Linked DNA regions of Homo sapiens: region 1 is linked to region 2. Evidence: fine-mapped expression QTL. Tissue or cell type: whole blood. Region 2 holds a variant in brackets; the other region holds the start of a gene. All regions are shown on one strand. Distances are from middle to middle. Region 1 holds the start of CYTH4 (cytohesin 4). Region 2 overlaps CYTH4 (cytohesin 4).

What was found. PIP is the estimated chance that this variant, and not a neighbour inherited with it, causes the effect.
Region 1: it holds the start of CYTH4, and the variant in region 2 is fine-mapped to the expression of CYTH4 in whole blood (TOPMed, PIP above 0.99).

Annotation. Positions count from the first base shown.
Region 1 is chr22:37,281,193-37,284,092 of GRCh38, forward strand. CYTH4 (cytohesin 4) reads left to right here and starts at 1,316. Exons shown (of 13, transcript NM_013385.5): 1 at 1,316-1,396. The coding sequence starts at 1,378. RefSeq lists enhancers at 1,075-1,124, 2,671-2,720.
Region 2 is chr22:37,311,892-37,314,791 of GRCh38, forward strand. It overlaps CYTH4 (cytohesin 4), which reads left to right. Exons shown (of 13, transcript NM_013385.5): 12 at 129-283; 13 at 1,548-2,900. The coding sequence ends at 1,620. LOC105373024 (a long non-coding RNA gene) reads right to left here. Exons shown (of 4, transcript XR_938232.3): 3 at 702-812. Among named protein-coding and RNA genes, the nearest start is that of CYTH4, 31 kb to the left of the region's middle. RefSeq lists an enhancer at 1-392. The variant T/C (reference allele first, on the strand shown) is at 1,407.

The sequences.
Region 1 (2,900 bases), 31 kb before region 2:
TCGAACATCACGGCACATCATTTCTGCCACGTGCTATTGGTCAAAGAGATGCCCAAGGCCAGCTCAGCTTCCAAGGAAGGAGAAATGGACTTCGCCCCTTGACAGCAGAAGCGGCGGCATAGTGAAAAGGAGGTGAACTTGTAGCTAGCTTTCACATCGGCCGTGATCTCTTCCATGTTCCCTTCATTCATTCATTCATTCATTCATTTGTTCATTCATTCCACACTTGCACACCCTCTATGTCCCCAGCATTTTACCACACACCAGAACACAAAAGGTAACCTTGCCCTCATGGGGCCTGGAGAGTAATGGGGAAACAGATGAATAACTCTGCATGTGTCCTGAAGTTATAGGGAATTCACATTTAATTTATACCTGTTTCTTTACAGCAAAGCTTTTTGCAGAAAGGATTTGAACCAACCTGCCAGAAAAGGCACAAGGAATAACATGATACATTTTAACCAAAGAAGATAATTAAAATCAAAGGAGAAAGTGTTTATTGAGCACCTACTATGTCCCAAGCATCTCCGACACATCCTCTCACTCCATGGTTTCCATATCCCCGAGTTAGTGTTATTCCCCTTTCAGAGATAAGCAAAGCGAGGCTGACTAGCCCTAGCTGAGAGTCAAACAGCTGAGTCAGGCCCCAAAGTTCACATGACATCATAGAATAGCTGTCGATGAGCTTTGGATTTGACGATGAGTTTCCCAGCAGCCTGGGGGAGAAGGAAAGTGGAACATATTACCCGATTGTTCACTAGACAAGAAAAAGCCAGATATTTCTTTGAAGGGAAGCAAAGCCCTTCCTAGCAGTGAATTCATTTGTCTCTTCTCAAGTGGGAGTTGGAAGAGAGCTTGTGGGGTGGAACACAGGGGGCCCTGCTAGGACTGTCCAAGTTGGGCGCTCCTATGGCATATATGTGAGGAGGCTGCCACGTGAATGCCCATGGTCCCCTGGAAAATGTTCGTCCTCAGTGAACATCGCCCTCGGTGTCTGTGCATGTGTACGTGTGTATGTGCATATGTGTCTGTGTGTTTCTTTCTGTCTCACTGTCTTTCTCTTTTTTATCTGGCCCTCCCCTCACTTCATCTGTTTGTTTGTTTGTTTGTTTGTTTGTTTCCACCTCTGTCCCTCCCTGGCAAAAGTCCCTGCTGCTCAAAACTCTGCCAGTTTTTAGGAAGTGCTGTTTTGTCAAAAGCCTGCACACGAGACCCCCGTGGGCCAGGACTGACTTCCTCCCCACACAGGGCTGGGCGGGGCAAGCAGGAAGGAGCCTGTTACAGTCAAGGTGACGCATCCTTGCCGGGCCAGCCCGAACAGCAGCTGGGTCGGCAAGCGACAGGAGCACGGGTCATCTTTTCCCCAGAGGCGTCGGAATGGACCTGTGCCACCCAGGTAAGCAACTGCCGTCAACCTCTCTGGGCCTCAGGGTGCTCTCTTTTAGAATGGGACAGCAGCCCCTGCCTCACAGGGTCCTAGATAAAGGAATACAGCGCAGGTGGGAAATGCAGCTGCAAGAAGCAAACATTTGTGGGCTCAGCCTGTGTGTCCAGTTGCGTTCTAGGGGCTGGACACACAGCAGTAGCAAAGCAGACGCTGTTTCCCCCTTCATAGGCTTGTGCTCTAGATGAGGAGACCGGCAGTGACTCTAATGTGATTCCATATGTCAGTTGATGGCAGGTAGGATGAAGAACAGTAAAGCAGGGTAAGGAAGACAGGAATGCATGGTGGAAAAGGCCCCAAGAGGAGATGCTGTCTGATGAGGGACCTGAGGAAGATGTCAGCTAAGGGGCTTTCTAAGGAACAAACATTCCAGCCAGAAGGAACAGCCAGTCCAAAGGCTCAGAGGTGGACTCAGAAAAGTGACTTGCGATTAAGATGATGATGGGATGTTGGTGATGGCGATGCTTGTCTGGGTGATACAAGGGCCTTGAGGCCCCTTTTTGGCCCCCGGGGGTTGGGGTGGTCTTTGGGGAGGCTGAGGACGCTGCCTAGAGCCAGGGGAGGGCCAGGAGTGAGCAACAGAGGCTCTGGTTGAAACCCTCCCCAGCTACTAAGACAATGTGTCTGGGGAGAAAGAGGAGAAAGGAGGCTGCAAAGATGGTGAGGAAAAGAACATCAGGGTCGTGTTTTGGGAGGCAAATTGAAGGCCCGGTAGAGGGGCCAAGTTTCTGCACCCTGGATGTCAGCATGCTCCAGAGCTGCAACAGTTCTGGTGAACACGGCTGCTGGAATTCCAGAACCTAAGGGCTCGTGGGAGCTGTCTGCTCCCCAGGTCCAGATGACCTCAGCCTTGTCCAGGAGCACCCTTGCTTCAAACGCACCTAATGTGGAGCAGCCTGGCCCCGCCCACTGGGCATCCCCCTTCCTCCCCACCCCCAGATGGAAGCCTCGGGCCCCAGGGAACCCAGAGAACCACTGATCCATTTCAACAGCCCCCCCAGTGGCAGAAGGGAGAAAAGAGGCCAAGGGAGGAAAACAGCCTCTCTAAGGCAGGAGCAGGACCAAATCCTGTTCCCTGAATCCCTATCCAGGGCTCACTCTGACCCCTGCCTCTCCCATGGGCTTTGGGGGCTCCCAAAATCACAGCTCAGTGAGCACAGCTTGGGGGCACCTGGTTGGCACAGGGAGACCCAGCGAAGGGCAGCACCTGGCTCAGGCCTCTCAGCAGACATGAGGGTGGGATGAGGGGGGGAGGGCACCCACCGAGATGCAACCCCCCTGCCTGTGTGTCCAGCAGGGCGCTTTGTCCTTTCGGGTCCTAACATACTGAGGTTACAGGGATGGCTGTCTCCATGTTGCAGATAAGGAAACTGAGGCTCCCAGAGGTGAACTAGAGACGGGGACTGACTTGCTTGAGGTCACACGGCCAGTCAGCAGCAGAGCAGGGACGAGAACC
Region 2 (2,900 bases):
CTGCCCCTTCGCCTGTCGTAGGGCTGTCACGCTGATCAGGGACACTAGCGTCTGGGCTTCTCTGAGCCTCCTGGAGGGCCCACCCAGCCTCCCTCTCTTCCCACCCTTGCCTGGCCACCTCCCCACAGTTCTGCCTGGAGCTCTACAACCCTAGCTGCCGAGGCCAGAAAATCAAGGCCTGCAAGACCGATGGCGACGGCAGGGTGGTGGAGGGCAAGCACGAATCGTACCGCATCTCAGCCACCAGTGCCGAGGAACGTGACCAGTGGATCGAGTCCATCCGGTAAGGGGTGCCCAGGTCTGGGGACGGCTTCCCGTCACCTTCCAGAAGGCCCTGCTTCTTTTGGGTCTTGCTTCCTTATCTGTAAAGGGGCTAACTCCAGTCTCTCCCTCCTGTTTCTGGCTGGCAAACCCCTTCCACCCGTATTCCATGGGTACTTTCTGTGTGCCTGGCACCAGGCCAGGCCCCAGGACACAGGGAAAGGAGAGACCACCTGCATGGGGTTGGTGGGAGAATAGAGCAAAGAGTTGCACATAAAGTTCTTGCCCCGCCCTTGCCTGGCACGTGGTGAGTGCTCTTGTTGGCATCACTATCCAAAGTGGCCTGGGAAGGACCTGGTGGAGGTGGAGGGAAGGGCTTTCCAGATAAACTTCCAGGTAAAAGGACCCGGACCCATGTGGGCAACCAGCAGGCGGCCTACCTGCACAGCATCCCGGAGTCCGAGTGAGGCTAAGCAGTGTGGGAGCTGAAACTGCTGAGCATGACAAAGCCACAGCCACCGTGGTGAAGAGCTTCAGTTTCTCCTGGGGCACTGGGGAGCCATAGACTCATAAATAGGGAGGGGTGGCTGGGTGAGGAAAGCCAAAGTGTAGGGACTGGTTCTGTGGTGCCACCAACAGGAGAGACATGAGGAAGATGCATCTGGTAAAGGGCAAGATGGCAAGCCTGCTCAAGGCTTGACTCTGAGCCAGCCCAAGATATTGGCAAGGGTGAGGCCTGGTGGCCAGAGGAAGGCTGAAGTGGTTGCTGGGCAGGGGCCGTGTCCCGGGGACTTGCAGGGTCTTTTCCCCTGGGCCTTGTGAGCCTGTGAGGCTGCCAGGCAGACCCATTCTCACCTCCATCTTACACATGAGGAAACTGAGGCCCAGAGATGGGAGGGACCTGCCCAGGCCACAGAACCAGGGACAGAGCAGGGTCCAACAGGCAGGTCTGCCAGCTCCACCCCAAGCTCTTCCCATCACCTTCCGAAGGTCGCCAGTGGGAGCCTGGAGAGGGGCCCAGAGACATTTGGGAGTAGAATTCCCAAGGCTCTCAGCTCCTGATCGGAGGCCTCACCCACTCTGGCCCTGCCCATGGGACACTGGGTTAGGCTTACAAGTCTGGACTTACCCTGGCACAGCCTTTG[T/C]TGGGGCCATCTGGCCTTTCCCCCGCGGCAGAGCAGGCTGACACCTCCCTGGGAATCCCATGCCCCTGATACAAGCCCTGGGAGAGCAGACCACCTTGACGGCCAGTCCAGCCCTGAAATCTCTCCTCCCACTCATTCTAGAGCCAGCATCACCCGTGTCCCCTTCTACGACCTGGTCTCTACTCGGAAGAAGAAGATTGCCAGCAAGCAGTGAGATTCCTGGAGGTGGCACTGGGGGCTGGTCACCCTGAGAGTCCCATCGCCTGCAGCACCTGGAGACCCACCTCCCACCCCAGTGCACTCTTTTGGGCCACAGACATCATTGCTGTTCCCCGTTACCTCGAGCTGACTCTAGAGGGGAAGGCAGAGCTCAGGAGGGTGGGTGGGAGCTGCAGTGGGCTCAGAGTCCAGCAATGAGGCCCCCTGGCCTGGGCACCCAGCTGCAGGCCCCTGCCCTACGTGCACTACAGGAAGGGGTGAGGAGAGCAGCCAGAGGAAAACCAGCCCCAGAATGCTGCAACTTCTCTTCTCTCTGGACTTCGGTGTCCTCGGCTCTGAAGGCGCTCTCTGCACTTAGATGCTGTCAGCCCTCAACGTAGGAGGGGCCGTGGGGTCCCTAAGTGATTCTTCTCCCTGGCAAGGCTCTTCCTTTTCAGGGATATCTCTGCCAACCCCTCCCCTGTCCTCGGGTTGGGCTTGGCCCTCTCTGCCTGAGAGAGCTCAGCACACACACAGCTCAGACCCACGGACAGGACCCCGGGACAGAACCCCGGGAGCACTGCCCTAGGAGCCCGGACCCCACGAGCTCAGTCCCAGCTCTGCCTCTGACTCGCTGTGTGCCCTCTGCCAAGTCATGCCCATTCTCTAGTTCTTGCAAAACTGCAGTGTTTGGACTAGAAACGTATTGGCCCCTGCTAGCCCTGTGCTCCAGCTTCCAGCTGGAGATGGCAGCCGTTGTTTGCGGAGCCCAGGCTGACTCCGGATTCAACGTTGCTGGGGAGAGAAAAGCAGTATAGACTCCACCTTCCAGGATGTCCATTTCGGGGAGAGGAGCAGGTGGGACCCTCAAGAAAATGACGGAGAACATCCCAGACAGATGGGACTCAAGCAGGATGGGTGCTATATCCAAGAAGCCAAGAAGGGAGAGTTTCGTGCACTGTGGTTAACAGGAGGGCTGCCTGGAGGCAGTGGCTGAGCCAGAAAGTAACACAGAGCTCATGCTTGGAGAGAGAGAGTCTTGGCCATGGCTTTCCTGCAAGACCACTGACGAGCAGTCCCATGGTGATAAAGGGCAGCCCGGCGGGTCCCAGCATCTCGAGACCCTCTGCAGAAGTATTATCAGAGTAGAGCTGACTTCCAGTACCCGGGCAGCCAGCTCTGTCTCCAGGGAGGCCTGGCCTGGAGGAGGAGTCCACTAACAGGAAACACTTCTCACCCCCTCACACAGGCCCAGGGGAGCCCCTGGAGGGAAATTCCTTGGCAGGGGAACAGGAA